Regions from separate parts of the Homo sapiens genome. Here region 2 is linked to region 1. Evidence: fine-mapped expression QTL. A gene starts in region 1. The other region holds a variant in brackets. All regions are shown on one strand. Distances are from middle to middle. Region 1 holds the start of MRPL43 (mitochondrial ribosomal protein L43). Region 2 has its middle 71 kb from the start of SLF2.

Evidence for each region. PIP is the estimated chance that this variant, and not a neighbour inherited with it, causes the effect.
Region 2: its variant is the best candidate, but not a certain one, in a credible set for the expression of MRPL43 in T cells (TOPMed, PIP 0.56).

What each region holds. Positions count from the first base shown.
Region 1 is chr10:100,983,801-100,992,449 of GRCh38, forward strand. MRPL43 (mitochondrial ribosomal protein L43) reads right to left here and starts at 3,697. Exons shown (of 3, transcript NM_032112.3): 1 at 3,513-3,697; 2 at 3,290-3,396; 3 at 2,469-3,175. The coding sequence starts at 3,643. The coding sequence ends at 2,934. It overlaps SEMA4G (semaphorin 4G), which reads left to right. Exons shown (of 15, transcript NM_017893.4): 15 at 1-1,816. The coding sequence ends at 331. It overlaps TWNK (twinkle mtDNA helicase), which reads left to right and starts at 3,743. Exons shown (of 5, transcript NM_021830.5): 1 at 3,743-5,653; 2 at 5,844-6,084; 3 at 6,636-6,743; 4 at 7,069-7,210. The coding sequence starts at 4,411. RefSeq lists an enhancer at 3,456-3,525.
Region 2 is chr10:100,837,914-100,846,562 of GRCh38, forward strand. No RefSeq gene overlaps it. Among named protein-coding and RNA genes, the nearest start is that of SLF2, 71 kb to the right of the region's middle. The variant T/C (reference allele first, on the strand shown) is at 4,674.

The DNA of each region.
Region 1 (8,649 bases):
AGTCTCAGGCCAGTGTCCTGGAGAGGAAGATGAGGGTGATGATGAGGGGGCTGGGGGCCTGGAGGGCAGCTGTCTCCAGATCATCCCTGGGGAGGGAGCCCCAGCCCCACCACCCCCACCGCCCCCACCGCCACCGGCTGAGCTGACCAATGGCTTGGTGGCACTGCCCAGCCGGCTGCGGAGGATGAATGGCAATAGCTATGTGCTTCTGAGGCAGAGCAACAATGGAGTACCAGCAGGGCCCTGCTCCTTCGCCGAGGAACTCAGCCGCATCCTGGAAAAAAGGAAGCACACGCAGCTCGTGGAGCAGCTAGATGAGAGCTCTGTCTGAGCCCAGCCTCCCAGAACAAATGCTCTTCCAAGCCAGCCTATCTGTCCCAGGCTGGGCCACTGCCTCCCTAACACAGCCACCCTCCCTTCATTACCCCCACTCCATACCCTTCTCCCAACTTTTTGATGTCCCTGTAGGGCTGGCCAGTCAGGCCCAGCCAAAGCCCCCTCCTCAGTCTCCACAGACCCACATGTGAGCAGCCCAGGCCCATCGGTGCTCCTCAGAGGTAGGTGCTCCCTCAGGATCAGGTGCCCTGCAGACCCAGAGCCAGTTCCTATCCCCTAACCTAAACACTTATAGGTGAGGACTCCATCCTCCTGTTCCATTCATCTGCCCAAACCCTTTCTCTTTCTCCCAGGCAGGGCTCTGCAGGTCCATATGGGCTCAATGTCACCACCCTCTGCATGGCCCTGTGTGCTGGATGGTCCTGAAACCAGACAAGACCTCTGCCAGCCACCTAAGCCCTGCGTACATTCACATGCACACATGGAAGAATGTTTATCGGCTGGGCTGCAGTGCCCCCACCCTCACCTTCTCCTGGTGCATTCTTGTTTCATCCCTGCTTCTGGACTTGGGGTACCCTCCCAATTGCCACATCCTATCTGGTCCTCTTCCCCAGCCCCATGTGGTGACCTCTTTGTCAAGAGCTTGGGAACGGGCCAGCCTGGGGAGGTAAGACTGCATCACTCCCCTCCTCTCCCTTCCTGTGTGGCCCTTGTGAATCAGCCTCCCCACTCTCCTTGGTCATTCTCAAGAGTATGAGAGACAGAGCTCCAGGCATGTCCCATCCCCATGCACATGTGGTAACACACACCTGTATCACACATGTGCTTACATTTCCACTCACATGCACCTCTGAGCCTCCCTTGCTGTCTTGGACCTGTCTGTTGGGTTTAGTCCGTGGACATTTCAGAGGGAGATCCCCCTCCCATTTAACTGTCCTCACAGGCCCTTGCCTAGGATGGATGACCAACACTGCACTCAATGAGCCAGCCTCTCTTTTGGGGGAATCAAGCATTTGCTTCCTCTAGACTACAGCAGGGAAAGGGAGGAGAAATCTGATGTCTCAACTGGCACATGAAGCCCATTCTTGGAACTATGCAAAGGGCAGAGGCTGGGAGTTTGGACGCTTAGCTCCTACCCCTGTCCTACCTCACCGGGGCACTTTCAGGGGCCAGGGGCCTCTGAAGTCTCTAGGCCTATATGGGACAATCAATTCTGACTGAGCTCCCCCATTCCCCTCGGGTGAGGATGACTGTTATTTTTGTAGCTGAGAACGTGGAATCCCACGGGTTTTTACTGCCCTTCACCCAACCTCTCCCACCTCCACCCCACAATGAATGTATTTATTGTGAGAATGGCTACACTTCTTTAGGAATGCCCCCACTTACAACCAGGTGGGTGGAACAGGCATGTGACAGAGTGGGGAGCCTGGGCTCAGCTCCTCCCCCTGCCGTTGGTTAATAAACACCCTTTTTCCCCACAGCTATGACTAGTCTGCTTCATCTAGATGCGCCCACCCCTGATCACCAGGGGACAGGCTCCTGAGCCTATACAGAAGGTGATATCTGCCTCCAGGATTGGCTCTGCTCCCCAATACAACTATTTGCAGAGGAAATTGGGATCCTCCGCTTCCATCCTGACTCCTTGGCAGGCACACAGGCCTCTTTAGTAAGGTTCACACTATTCATTGATCATGGTGTTAGGGCATGACAAGAAAATGACAACAGTTCAAGAATTCTTACAGGGGTTTCTAGATTTTCATTTCCTGCCTCTCATTTCCCCACCATCCCCCCTTTTTAAACTAAGATTAGAAAATACTCATTAATATCAGCCTTCCTGCCCTTCCCCAAGGTTCTCAGCACCCCCCACCAGCTGGCTCAAGGGACATGGATTTTATTTCTGCACAAAGAGGGACGTGGGGGGAAGGAGATGTATAGCTAAGACCAGAGAAAGCTTGTCAGCCAGGACTTGGTCTGAGAATCACTCCCCTCTCCCTTTCAGGGGTCAGGCCTAGATTAATCACTTGGCCTTTGATACTAACCACCTGACAGTTGTTATATGTTCTGCGTCTAGTTTTAAAATAATGAAAACTGAGGCTTGTGCTTAACATATGCACACATTTTGAAGACAGACCTGAAATGTGACCTTGGATAAGTTTATTAACCTGTTTTATAAATCTGTATTCACACAGATATAAAGTGCCTAGCCCATCACAGCAGAGCTCTCCGTAGCTCAGTGGTTGTTCCAATAAGACATCAGGGATTCTTCAGAAGCCAGCCTTCAGACCTCTCACTGTGTTTTGAGATCATTATTATCAATTTGGATTTAAAAAACAAGGGCCCTGTAAAACCCTTGAAGTCTTCCTCATCTCAGGTTTTAGGGATGCCACTTGCATAAAAATGAGTGGTTCACAAGGTCACTGCCCCCAGAAGCAGGCACTGGAAAGAAACAGGCAGCTCTTCATTATCCCAAGCAGAACCTCTGTCAACTTGCCCATTGATGGGTTCCATTTGCCTGGGCTTGGAATCCCAAAGGGGAAGAACCACCTTTACCGGAGTAACAGTCCAAAGCCTGGGGCTGCAGTTGGTGGGGCAACTCTTCACTGTGCTTGCACCTGGGCTGGGGCAGGATCCTGAACCTCTCGGGGGCGTAGCCCGCGGAACGTGGTCGGCTTGTTGGTGAAGGGGTGCCACTGGCCCTGGATGCTAGGGTTGTCGGTGTGGAAGGGCTTGCGGATGCGGATCACGTCCAAGCCCGACTGGTCGGCCAGCTTCTGCACCAGCGTCGAGATCTCCTCGACCGACTTGCAGTGGATGCTCTCCTCGCGCACAGCCCCGTTAACTGGCAGAAGAGGGGTGAGAGTGGGTGGAAGCTGGCCGGTGCGACCAAGCGAGAAGGAGGATAGCGGGTCGAGCCCCTGATCCCGCCCTCCAGCCCGAGCCCGGCCCCACTCACGGTATTCGGCCACTACTCTGGGCACGCAGCACGGACGCGAGTTTACATATATTACGACCCCTGGATTCCGTCGGGCGAAGTCGATCACCTCCCGCTCCACGAACTCCCTAAGCGACCCGGGACAGTGAGCAGTATGACCCCTGACTGGGGGCGACCTACCCGGGGAGTCGTTGCCACCTCCACACCCACCCCGACCCGCGCCTGCGCACTTCCCTTGGCTCACCTGGCGCCGCGAGACGAGGCGCCGTCGCGGCTGACGCTGAAGCTCAGACGCTGCAGCTGCTGCACATAGCGACCCAGTCCGTTGTGGAGAACGCTGGCCAAGAAGCGGCTCGGAGTCCCGCGCGCCGTCATAGCTACAGCTTGGAGGCCGCGGAGCCTAAGCAGCGAGGAGAGGGGGGCGGGACTAAACCTCGAGGCTTCCGGTTCCGGGACGACCGCTCCCGGAGTTTTGCTTCCGAGGTCAAGGCGAGTAGCATGTGCGGGAGACTCACGTTGCCGGCGAAGTGGGAGAGAGAAAAGTGGTAACCTGGGGCTGGGGGCCGGCGCGGCGGAGCTCGGAGTAGTAGAGCGGAGTGAAGACACGGGGGAGGATAGAGACTGGCATTCCTTTGGGCCGGGGGATTGGCGGGAGTCGTGCTGGGTGCTCTCGCCGTGTTGAGGTCCCAGTGAGGGGAAGGAGAAGCGGAAGAGGGTCTCTAGTCGGGGCCTAGGGCAAAGGGACTACAAAAAGGATGCAGATGACTATAGAAATGAGGACGACGAGGAGATGCTGTGGAGGAGCAGTAGAGGTGAGAAGATGATGCAAAGAAACTGTGTCAGTGAGGAACTGTATAGAGGGTCATAGAGGTGAGGTGGCGGAGAGAAACTAACTAACGGACCATAGAGGTGGGGGAGCCATTGTAGAAGGACGTGGACGCGAAAGGGTCGTGTAGATGGGCATATGTGTGAAGCAGCAACGTAGAGGGGCTGAAGAGGAGAAATTCATGGAGAGAAAGAATGCACCTAGAGTGAGCTCTGCAGAGTGCTGCGTGGGATATCCCTAGAGTTTGGTCTAGTGAAGGCACGCTAACCAGGCACCTAAGGCATTTCAAGTAGTGACTTCCCACATTTGGCTAGGAATGTGGGTCCTCCTCCGAAGTGGGTACCCCCTCCGTATCTTGTTACCCCTGCGTGGGGAGTGGATGGGTCGGAGGGGCCTGCCCCGAAACTTGGCCCCAGGCCCTCCTCGCAGACGTTACAGGAAGGAGACTCTCCAAGCCTTGGATATGCCAGTGTTGCCTGTAACTGCAACTGAAATCCGCCAGTATTTGCGGGGGCATGGGATCCCCTTCCAGGATGGTCACAGTTGCCTGCGGGCACTGAGCCCCTTTGCAGAGTCTTCACAGCTCAAAGGCCAGACTGGTGTTACCACTTCCTTCAGCCTCTTCATTGACAAGACCACAGGCCACTTTCTCTGCATGACCAGCCTAGCAGAAGGGAGCTGGGAAGACTTCCAGGCCAGCGTGGAGGGGCGAGGGGATGGGGCCAGGGAGGGGTTTCTGCTTAGCAAGGCACCAGAATTTGAGGACAGCGAGGAGGTCCGGAGGATCTGGAACCGAGCAATACCTCTCTGGGAGCTGCCTGATCAGGAGGAGGTTCAGCTGGCTGATACAATGTTTGGCCTTACCAAGGTTACAGATGACACACTCAAGCGTTTCAGTGTGCGATATCTGCGACCTGCTCGCAGTCTTGTCTTCCCTTGGTTCTCCCCTGGGGGCTCAGGATTACGAGGCCTGAAGCTCCTAGAGGCTAAATGCCAGGGGGATGGAGTGAGCTACGAGGAAACCACTATTCCCCGACCCAGCGCCTACCACAATCTGTTTGGATTACCACTGATTAGTCGTCGAGATGCTGAGGTGGTACTGACGAGTCGTGAGCTTGACAGCCTGGCCTTGAACCAGTCCACGGGGCTGCCTACCCTTACTCTACCCCGAGGAACGACCTGCTTACCCCCTGCCTTACTCCCTTACCTGGAACAGTTCCGGCGGATTGTATTCTGGTTGGGGGATGACCTTCGGTCCTGGGAAGCCGCCAAGTTGTTTGCACGAAAACTGAACCCCAAACGATGCTTCTTGGTGCGACCAGGAGACCAGCAACCCCGTCCCCTGGAGGCCCTGAACGGAGGCTTCAATCTTTCTCGTATTCTTCGTACCGCCCTGCCTGCCTGGCACAAGTCCATCGTATCTTTCCGGCAGCTTCGGGAGGAGGTGCTAGGAGAACTGTCAAATGTGGAGCAAGCAGCTGGCCTCCGCTGGAGCCGCTTTCCAGACCTCAATCGTATCTTGAAGGGACATCGAAAGGGCGAGCTGACGGTCTTCACAGGTAACCCTTTGAGAAATCACTACTTAGAGTAAAGGGGCAGAAGATCAGGTGACAAAAGCAAGTGGGTTTGGGCCATGACAATGTTGAAAAGAAGGTTGGCCCTTTCCCCCCAGTTTTAAAGCCCTGACCTATGTCTTGGTTTCAAGGGTAGGACTTCCTCCTCACCCAGGTCTGTTCCACCCCACTGCAGGGCCAACAGGCAGTGGAAAGACGACATTCATCAGTGAGTATGCCCTGGATTTGTGTTCCCAGGGGGTGAACACACTGTGGGGTAGCTTCGAGATCAGCAATGTGAGACTAGCCCGGGTCATGCTGACACAGTTTGCCGAGGGGCGGCTGGAAGATCAACTGGACAAATATGATCACTGGGCTGACCGCTTTGAGGACCTGCCCCTCTATTTCATGACTTTCCATGGACAGCAAAGCATCAGGTGAGACTCCCAGATTCCAGCCACCTTGCTTTCCCAGACATATCCCAGCACTCAGGAACCTTTGGTTCCTTTTCCAGCTCCAGTAGGAACTCCCCCATCTCCTTAGGTTTGGAGTTTTTCAAAGAATGAGAGGGCAGGGCTGGACACACTGGCTCACGCCTGTAATCCCAGCACTTTGGGAGGCTGAGGTGGGAGGATCACTTGAGCCCAGGGATTTGAGACCAACCTGGGCAATATAGGGAGACCACCCCTCTCTATAAAAAAATTTTTAAAAATTAGGCTGGGCATGGTGATGGCATATGCCTGTGGTCCCAGCTACTCAAGAAGCTAAAGTAAGAGGATCGCTTGAGCCTAGTAGGTTGGGGCTGCAGTGAGCTGTGATCACACCACTGCACTCCAGCCTGGGCTACAGAGCAAGACCTTGTCTCAAATAATAGTAATAATAATAGAAGGGCAGAGGAGGCAGCCAAGAGAGTTTTCAGGATGCTAGTTCTTCTGCCTGGGGTGGTCTAGAGACAACTTGTCAAATTCCTTGCCTTTCCTCTTCCCAGGACTGTAATAGATACAATGCAACATGCAGTCTACGTCTATGACATTTGTCATGTGATCATCGACAACCTGCAGTTCATGATGGGTCACGAGCAGCTGTCCACAGACAGGTGACGGTGACATCCTCTCTTGTCTAGCTTGAGCCCGCTTGGACATACAACACACACTTCTCAGGCAGCTGGCCTCTAGGCACACATGCTGTGCTCTCCTATTTTCTGAGATGTGTGCAGGCACGTACCACCCCCATGTGTATCATATGGAGGTGTGGGGTATGGCAGCAGGATGTATGGACAGGGATCTGAGTGTGAGTCCTTGGGTAGAGGGAGGTAGAGTGGGTTGTGGTAGTTTGTGGGGAGATGTGAATGGATCAAGAGTATGTGTATGTTCTTGTCCTTCTGTGTCTGATAAGCTCTTTGTGTTGTTGGGATGGCGTAGGATCGCAGCTCAAGACTACATCATCGGGGTCTTTCGGAAGTTTGCAACAGACAATAACTGCCATGTGACACTGGTCATTCACCCCCGGAAAGAGGATGATGACAAGGAACTGCAGACAGCGTCCATTTTTGGCTCAGCCAAAGTGAGTGGCCTTTAGCGGAGCTCAAGCTTTGGAAAATAGAGTGGGTAGGTGTGACCAGGGACAGCCCTCATTCAGCCTTAATCGTCTTGACTGTCCATCCGAACAGGCAGGAGGCAATGCCTCTGGGGCCATGACATGAGGAATATATGTGCTGGAAATACAAAGGCTGATAGTTGGTTCTTATGCTCTTCTTGTCCCCCAGGAGCTCACATCCTCTCCTGGGGAAACAGTAAGACAGTGATTGCAATTCAGTATGATAAGAGTATGATAGGCAGCACAAGTATTTGGAGAGCAAAGAGAAAAGATGTCTGAGTCAGCCCGGGACATCTGGGAGACTTCCAGAGGAGGTGACAACAAAGGTTGGGTTGAGGTTTGGTAGACAATGGGTATTAGACAATCAGATAAATGTGAGGGCCTTCTGGGCATCAGGACCAGCCCAATCCTGGAGCTTCTAGTGTTACACTGAATGCCTATTACATACGAGGCCTGGGCTGGGCCTAGGGAATTCAGAGCAAGGAGCACAAATCATGTGCCATGATGGAACAAACATGGAGCTGGGAAAGAGAGTAATGCAGAAGTGGAAAAATGGCAGGGTACAGTGGATCACACCTGTAATCTCAACACTTTGGGAGGCTGAGGCAGGAGGATTGCTGGGGCCCAGGAGTTTGGCAATCTGAGCAATGTAGTGAGACCCTGTCTCTACAAAAATATTTGAAAATTGGCCAGGCGTGGTGGCTCACGCTTATAATCCCAGCACTTTGGGAGGCCAAGGCGGGTGGATCACGAGGTCAGGAGATCGAGACTATCTTGCTAACATGGTGAAACCCTGTCTCTACTAAAAATACAAAAAAAAAAAAAAATTAGCCGGGCGTGGTGGCAGGCACCTGTAGTCCCAGCTACTTGGGAGGCTGAGGCAGAATGGCGTGAACCCGGGAGGCGGAGCTTGCAGTGAGCGGAGATCGCGCCACTGCACTCCATCCTGGGTGACAGAGTGAGACTCCGTCTCAAAAAATATATATATATAATATATATATATTTAAAAATTAGCTGGGCATGGTAGCATGCACCTTTGGTCCCAGCTACTCAGGAGGCTGAGGTGGGAGGATTGCTTGAGCCTGGGAGGTTGAGACTGCAGTGAGCCGTGCTCACACCACTGCACTCCACTCCAACCTGGGCAGCAGAGTGAGACCCTATCTTTTTTTTTTTTTTTTTTTTTTTTTTGAGACGGAGTCTCGCTTTGTCACCCAGGCTGGAGTGCAGTGGCGCGATCTCGGCTCACTGCAAGCTCCACCTCCCAGGTTCAAGTGATTCTCCTGCCTCAGCCTCCCAAGTAGCTGGGACTACAGGCATGTGCCACCACACCCGCCTAATTTTTTGTATTTTTTTAGTAGATACGGAGTTTCACCGTGTTAGCCAGGATGGTCTCAATCTCCTGACCT
Region 2 (8,649 bases), 150 kb before region 1:
GCTGTGCCTTGTGGGCTCAGACGAGGGAGAGGCTGCTGAGGGCTGCAGAGTAGAATGGCAGAGAGAATGGTTAGGAGGACTTCCCAGAAGAGTAGGGAAGTGGGGTCTGAAAGAAGCAGGCTCTGTGCAAACATGGGCTGGCTGAAGCATGGGGTTGTTCAAGGGAGAAGTAATAGTTGGAAATATTGGGTAATAGTTGGAAAGGGAACTTTCCAAAACTGATACTCATATATTTGCTGGAGGTTGAACTGACAAGACTTGGGTACTGACTGGATGAGAGAGATGAGGGCCAGGGAGACCAGTTTGTGAAGGGCAATCAATGCCAGACTGTTTGACCATTTTCCTATCCTTAACTGGGGGGAGGGCACTGACTACTTCTAAGGTGACCTGATGCAAAGTTTTATTTACAAGTTAATTCTAGCTGCCAGACAAGGTGGTTGAAGGGAAAGTTTGAGGCAGGGAGACTATTAGAAGGCTAGTGCAATGATGAGATGGGGGATGAAATGGAGTGAGAGTGAGAGAGAGAGAGAGATGCAGGTTGACCTGTGGAAGGAAGATCTGTGATAAGGAAGTCTCCCTGAGGGACAGAGGGGGACAGGTAAGCTGGGTGGGCTCCATCTCCAAGTGTCTGGCCCAAGAAGGCCTGGTGGTAGCCTCACTGAGGTAGCATATCTGGACTTGGCTGCCAATTGGTTATGAAGGTGAGGAGGAGAGATAGGGCAAAGATGATTGCCTCCAAGGGTGTTCCAAGAGCCTGGCAGCTGATGGGCCACCAGCAGAGGTAAGAAGAGACGCTAACTTGGGGCTAGAGATCATGACATGCCTTTGCATATTGAGTATTTGTGCCTGAGTTTGACATGCCAGGGCATGATGGCCAATAGACAGAATTACAGGGAAGTAGCTCAGGGGAGTAAATTGGCCTCTGGATGTAGAATGGGGAGATATACCCTCCTGCCCCACTCTCCTAGTCTCCAGTTTTGCATTGCAGTTTGGATGGGCCAATTTAATTCTGTAACAAAGTAACAGTATAGTATTAACCCAAAATAATCCTATAATACCATAGCACAGTAAAGATGATGTATCACTGCCAAGATACAAGTGATAGTGTAGTGTAGGGCTGTAACGATGTAATCCAAAAACAGTATAACCATATGGCAATTTGCTACTGTCAGCCAGGAAATGATGGGTCGGTGCACTATAGGTTAACAGTACTGGGCTATAATGAGGTAACCATGTAATCAGTGATATTGTAGTGTTGAAATGACTGTAACAAGGCACACAACCCAGCAACTTGATATGACAATCTGACAGTGTAATTGTGTTAACTTAGTAATGGTTACCGATATAATGATGCAATCACATGATGGCAGAGTGTGGTAATGATGTCACATGATCATAAAACCTCAAAGGCAGTGGAAGGGAAGAGGATGGAGCTCTTAACCTAAGCCCCAGGGCTCTGAGAATAGAGTAAGAAAGCCCTTTCCAAGTTTAAAAGGAAGCTTCCTCAGGATGCTGCAGAGGCTGGAAGAAGCTTCTGGAAGGATGTTGCAGCCTGGGATAGGAAAGAGCTCAGCCGAGAAAGAAAACTGGGGGCTGGGCACAGTGGCTGACGCCTGTAACCCCAGTACTTTGGAAGGCTGAGGCAGGTGGATCACTTGAGATCAGGAGTTCAAGATCAGCCTGGCCAAACATGGTGAAATCCTGTCTCTACTAAAAAATACAAAAATTAGCCAGGTGTGGTGGTGCACGCCTGTAATCCCAGCTACTCAGGAGGCTGAGGCACTAGAATCACTTAACTCAGGAGGCGGAGGTTACAGTAAGCCGAGTTCGTGCCATTGCACTCTAGCCTAGGTGACAGAGTGAGTGAGACTCTAAAAACAAAAAAAAAGGAAGGAAGGAAGGAAGGAAGGAAGGAAGGAAGGGAGGGAGGGAGGGAGGGAGGGAGGGAGGAAGGGAAGGAAGGAAGGAGAAAGGAAAGGAAAGGGAAGGGAAGGGGAAAAGAAAAGAAGGAAGGCAAGAAGTGGTGGTGGCTTTGCAGAACAGGACATAGCTCTGTTAGGCTGGCCAGGATCAAAGCAAGCCAGCCCCCAACTGTGGATACTATCTGAGCAGCCCTGACCCCTTTCAGTGCTCTTGACTGTTCACTTAGCCTGAGAGGTGTCTGCTCCTTCAGGAGCTGAAATAGGGCAAATCATATTCAGTACTTGTAAGATTCTTGGAATCATCACATTGACAAGAATATAAAAGAAAACCCAGAGTAACACAATTGAAAACAACTCACATATCTGATCTTTACTATGTGCTGGGCACTGTTCTTCTGCAGATTATTCACCATAACCCAAGGAAGAAGGTTTTATCTTATTCGTTTTACAGATGAAGACAATGAGACCCAGAGAGATTAAACATATTTGTCTAAAGTCACATAGCAAGTAAAGGGCAGAGCTGGAATTCAGACTCAGATCCACATCTGCCTTTAAAGCACATTCTTGCTCTTGTCATTGGGTATCTGCTTTTAGAAGTGTGTGACAAACCAGTGAGAAAAAAACCAGGGAGCAGGTTGAGCCAAAGGATAAACAAGTGACATATTCCTAGACATACATTTTTTAAAAGGTCAATATTAAGGTGGATTAAAATGTGTGTAATGGGCAAGTGTTTAAGAAAGAAAGGATGGATATGAATATATATTCTTATTTGCTTACATTTCTTGAAATGAAAAGATAAACAAAATATTTTAAAAATAATTATTGGAGAAAGGAGGAAACAAAGTGAAGAGGATGGGGTAGAAGGTAGACATCACTGAGTATAAATTTTCAATAGATTTTTAAAAATAGATTAAAACCATATAGATACTTTATATAATAACACAATAAAATCAAGTATGTAAATAAGTAATCCATAAAAAATCAAAAGCAAAATGAAACAAATGAACTTATCTACTAAGTTGGTATTATAATCACATAGATAAACTATTTCAAGTAATTTAAAATCCAGTAATTGACTCTACATACATCCCTAGTGGGATATACACTAATAAAGCCAATAAGTAATGAGATTGATGTTCTTAGAGTTTTTTGGTAAGGGAGAAATAAACAAACAAAAACAGATGGAAGATCAGTGGTGATTAGTAAAATCCCCATAGTCTTGCATTTGATTTGGAAGTATCAGTAATAACTGTTGATGTATTTTATCTTTAAAAAATGTATTTCATGGCTTTATGCATTGAAAAAGACAAGAAACCAACCAACTCAGTAGCAATAAGCACCTCTAGTCTCCAGACTGTGGTCTTTAAATACCATTTTGCATTAAAAAGAACCAGGGCTCTTTGGGGGAAATGAAAAATTTCAGATCTGAAACAGGACATGTACAAGATCATTCTGGAAATCTTATACCAGAAAGCGAGGAAGCTATGAAAGACTACTAGGGTCATTTCAAAAGGACTTGTGCACTAATTACAGGCTCCCATTTGCCAAAGATGATACAATTGAGCATCAGTGTTTATAATAACTGCAATTGATTGAAACTCATCTAATAAATTTAAATCCATGAATAATCATTATACTTAAAAGAAAAACCTTACTAATCTTCTTTGAAGGATGGTAGAGAGCCAACTCATAATTTGGTAAACTGATCGAAAAAAAAAACCAAGCATTTCTACTGCCTTTCTTATATGAGCTATATATACCTTGGGTTGAATCCAGGAGGCCGAGGTTGCAGTGAGCCAAGATCACGCCACTGTACTCCAGCCTGGGCAACAGGGAGAGACTCTATCTTAAATAAATAAATAAATAAATAAATAAATAAATAAATAAATAAAGTGATATTTCAAAAAAAATCTAATCTAAATCTAATCAAGCCTATAGATGTAACTACTATCTTGCAGAAAATACTGTGAGCAGAGGAACCTCAAGGATGCAATCCAAAAACTCCAGGTTATGGGTAAATATCCTGGCTTCCTCAATTAAAAAATTGAAAGAGAGAAAAAAATGGATAGACTAAAACAGACTTGAGAGATATATCAACTAATTGCATTATATTTGAATCTTGCAAGTAATTAAAAGGAGGAGAAGGAGCAGGAAGAGGAGGAAGAGAAAGAAGAGTAGAAGATGTTATGAGGCAATCAGGGACATGTAAGCACTGCATTAACTGGACACTATTAAGTTTTTAGATGTGCTAGTGATATTATGGTTATTTTAAAGTCATTTACTTTAAAAATATAAACTGAAATATTTATAAATTAAATGATGTGATATCTTGGATTTGCTATCAAATAATCTAGGGGGTAGAGTTGGCTGAGGAATATATAGAATAAGACTGGCCATAAATTGATAACCGTTGGAGCTGGGTTCATTATACTCCTCTCTACTTTTATATATGTTTGAAGTTTTCAATGTTTAACCCATGTTATATTGAAATGAGCTGGTTAAATTTGGGGAGTAGCTATCTCCCCCATCTTGAACTTCAGAAAGCTGGCAGCTGTCTTCCATTGTTCAGCCCTCCAAGCTGGAAACTGAACAAACTGACCAGCCCCCCAAAAAAGACCTCTAAATACTGACAATCAGAGTCCCCCCACAAAACATCCGGGTCTCCAACTGATCATTCTTCAGTGATGTCCACTAATCAACAGGTCCTAAAATTAGCACAGAGCTTTCAAGCGGTCATTTAGTGCCCTACCT[T/C]TGTGTATTGATGGACAGGAAAAGATGCTAATGATTTAGGACAAGTTTCTAACATAAAAGATAAAGACCAGGCCGGGCACAGTGGCTCACGCCCCTAATCCCAGCACTTTGGGAGGCCAAGGTGGGTGGATGACCTGAGGTCAGGAGTTCGAGACCAGCCTGGCCATCTTGGTGAAACTCCGTCTCTACTAAAAATACAAAAATTAGCCAGGCGTGGTGGCAGGTGACTGTAATTCCAGCTACTCAGGAGGCTGAGGCAGAAGAATTGCTTGAACCCAGGAGGCGGAGCTTGCATTGAGCTGAGATTGAGCTACTGCACTCCAGCCTGGGTAACAGAGCAAGACTCCATCTCAAAAAAAAATTTACACACTTATATACATAAATGTGATATATTGATTGATTTTTACCCCAAATTGTGATATAAATATATTGGGCCAAAGACAAAATGATTATAGGTGGTGACATAAGAGATCCCAATCCTCATCTTCTATAATAATTAGTTAATAGCTGGGCATGGTGATACATGCCTGTAATCCCAGCTACTCAGGAGGCTGAGGCATGAGAATCACTTGAACTCAGGAGGTGGAGGTTGCCGTGAGCCGAGATTGCACCACTGCACTACAGCCTGGATGACAGAAACTCCATCTCAAGAAAAAAAAAGAACTTGAAAGTATCAAAGAATATTCAGAGAAGAGAAGAAAGCTTAAAAAAACAAACAAACCTGCAATTAATAACCTCAGAGAGGTATAAGAAACACATCCATGAAAAAAAGACAGGGTGTGGTTTGTTTTGTTTTGTTTTTTTCTGAGACAGAGTCTCGCTCTGTTGCCCGGGCTGGAGTGCAGTAGTGTGATCTCAACTCACTGCAGCCTCTGCCTCCCGGGTTTAAGCAATTCTCCTGCCTCAGCCTCCCGAGTAGCTGGGACTACAGGCGCGTGCCACCATGCCCGGCTAATTTTTTGTGTTTTTAGTAGAGACGGGGTTTCACCGTGTTGGCCAGGCTGGTCTCAATCTCCTTACCTCGTGATCCACCTGCCTCGGCCTCCCAGAGTGCTGGGATTACAGGTGTGAGCAACCTCACCTGGCCAGGGTGTGTTTTTAAGGTATATTCAGAGAATAATAATTGTTAAAATTCCTGAATATTTATAGATATATGTACACATAATACATATGATATCTATAATATTAGAGATAAAGTGAAAAGTCAAAAATAGCAATATAAGCATGATATGGCCACAGAAGTAGGGAAGTACATATCAGAAGATGTAACTAATCATTTTCAAAAAGGTTGCCTATAGGGACTTAATAGAAGACAACTATAACCTTGTATTTGGTTGCTTTTTGAGCTATGTAAATACAGTTGACCCTTGAACAACATAGGTTTGAACTGCATGGATCCATTTATATGCAGAATTTTTCCAAAAAAGTTACACTGAATGTGCTTGCCTTTCCTGCCTCCTGTTCTGCGTCCTCCACATCTTTGACCTCTGCCACCCCGAGACAGCAAGACCAACCCCTTTCCTCCCTCCTTCTCCTCAGCCTACTCAGTGTGAAGGCAACGAGGATGAAGACTTTTATGACGGTCCACTTCCACTTATTGAATAGTAAGTATATTTTCTCTTCCTCATGATTTTCTTAATAGCATTTTCTTTTTTCTAGCTTACTTTATTGTAAGAATACAGTATATAATACATATAACACACAGAATATGTGTTAATCGACAGTTTGTTATTGGTAAGCCTTCTGGGCAACAGTAGGCTATTCGTAGTTAAGTTTTGGGAGAGTCAAAAGTTATACATAGATTTTTTTTTTTAATTATTTATGTCCATAGATTTTGGGGGAACAGGTGCTATTTGGTTACATGAGTAAGTTTCTTTAGTGGTGATTTGTGAGATTTTGGTGCACCCATCACTCGAGCAGTGTACACTGAACCCAATGTGTAGTCTTTTACCCCTCACCCCTTCTCACCCTTTGCCCCTGAGTCCCCAAAGTCCACTGTATAATTCTTATGCGTTTGCATCCTCATAGCTTAGCTCCCACCTATGAGTGAGAACATACAACGTTTGGTTTTCCATTCCTGAGTTACTCACTTAGAATAATAGTCTCCAATCCCATCCAGGTTGCTGCAAATGCTGTTAATTCATTTCTTTTTATGGCTGAGCAGTATTCCGTCATATATGTACCACAGTTTCTTTATCCATTCGTTGATTGGTGGGCATTTGAGTTGGTTCCACATTTTTGCAATTGTGAATTGTGCTGCTATAAACATGTGTGTGCAAGTACCTTTTTCAACAATGACTTCTTTTCCTCTGGGTAGATACCCAGTTGTGGGATTTCTGAGTCAAATGGTAGTTCTACTTTTAGTTCTTTAAGGAATCTCCACACTGTTTTCCATAGTGGTTGTACTAGTTTACGTTCCCACCAACAGTGTAGAAGTGTTCCCTTTTCACCTTATCCATGCCAACATCTATTTTTTAAATTTTTTTTATTATGGCCATTCTTGTGGAAGTAAGGTGGTATCATATAGTGGTTTTGATTTGCATTTCCTTGATCATTAGTGATGTTGAGCATTTTTTTCATGTTTTTTGGCCATTTGAAAAGTTACACATGGATTTTCAACTACATCATGGGTCCGCACTCCAGCCCCTGCAGTGTTCAATGGTCAACTGTATATAACTTTTTTTTTTTTGAGGCAGGGTCACAATCATGGCTCACTGAAGCCTTAACCTCATGGGTTCAAGTGTTCTTCTTGCCTCATCCTCCCAAGTAGCTGGGACTACAGCGACACACCACCACGCCTGGCTAAGTTTTTGATTTTTTGTAGAGATGAGGTCTTGCTATATTGCCCAGGCTGGTCTCAAACTCTTGGGCTCAACCCATCCTCCCGCCTCAGCCTCCCAAAGTACTGGGATTACAGGTGTGAGCTACCACTCGCAGCCAACTATATTTAACTTTTATTTATTTATTTTTATTTTATTTTTATTTTTTATATATTTTTTTTGGAGACAGAGTTTCACTCTGTTATCCAGGCTGGAGTGCAGTGCTGCCATCTTGGCTCACTGCAACCCACCTTCCAGGTTCAAGAGATTCTCCTGCCTCAGCCTCCTGAGTAGCTGGGTACAGGAGCCCGCCACAATGCCTGGCTAATTTTTTTTGTATTTTTAGTAGAGACAGGGTTTCGCCATGTTAGCCAGGCTGGTCTCAAACTCCTGACCTCAGGTGATCTGACCTCGGCCTCCCAAAGTGCTGGGATTACAGGCATGAGCCACCACGCCTGGCCTATATTTAACTTTTAATGAAAAATTCAAACATACACAAAAGTGAGAAAATAGTACAATGAACTCTCATATTCTAATCCCTCAGAATTAGCAATTTATCAAAATTTTGCCACACTTGCTTCATGTAAGTACATTACTTTAAATTTTTTAGAAAATTTTTTAAAATTTTAGAAATATACACAATAAATTAATAATATGGCTACCTCTGAAACATATGACTGATATAGAGATGGGAGAGGTGAGGAAAAGAGCTTTTTTCCTTTTTAAACAGTTTTATTTTTATTTTTATCTTACAAACTTATGCCATGCGCTGCTCTAAACACTTTACACTCATTTAATCCTCATAGCAAATCGATGAAGTGTGTGCTAGTTTTATTCTTATTTGATAGAAGAGAGCTGTTTATCATTTGAATTTTTTTCAGTGAGCAGATATTCCTTTTTAAATATTTATTTATGTGTTTGTTTTAGAGACAGGGTCTCCGTCTGTTGCCCAAGATTCACTGTAACCTCAAACTCCTGTGTTTAAGGGATTCTCCCACTTTAGTCTCCCAAGTAGCTGGGACTACAGGCAGGGGCCACCATGCCTGGCCAATTTTAATTTTTTTTTTTTTTTAGAGATGGGGGTCTCACTATGTTGCCCAGGTTGGTATTGAACTCCTCTCTTCAAGTGATCCTCCAGTCTTGACCTGTAAATAATA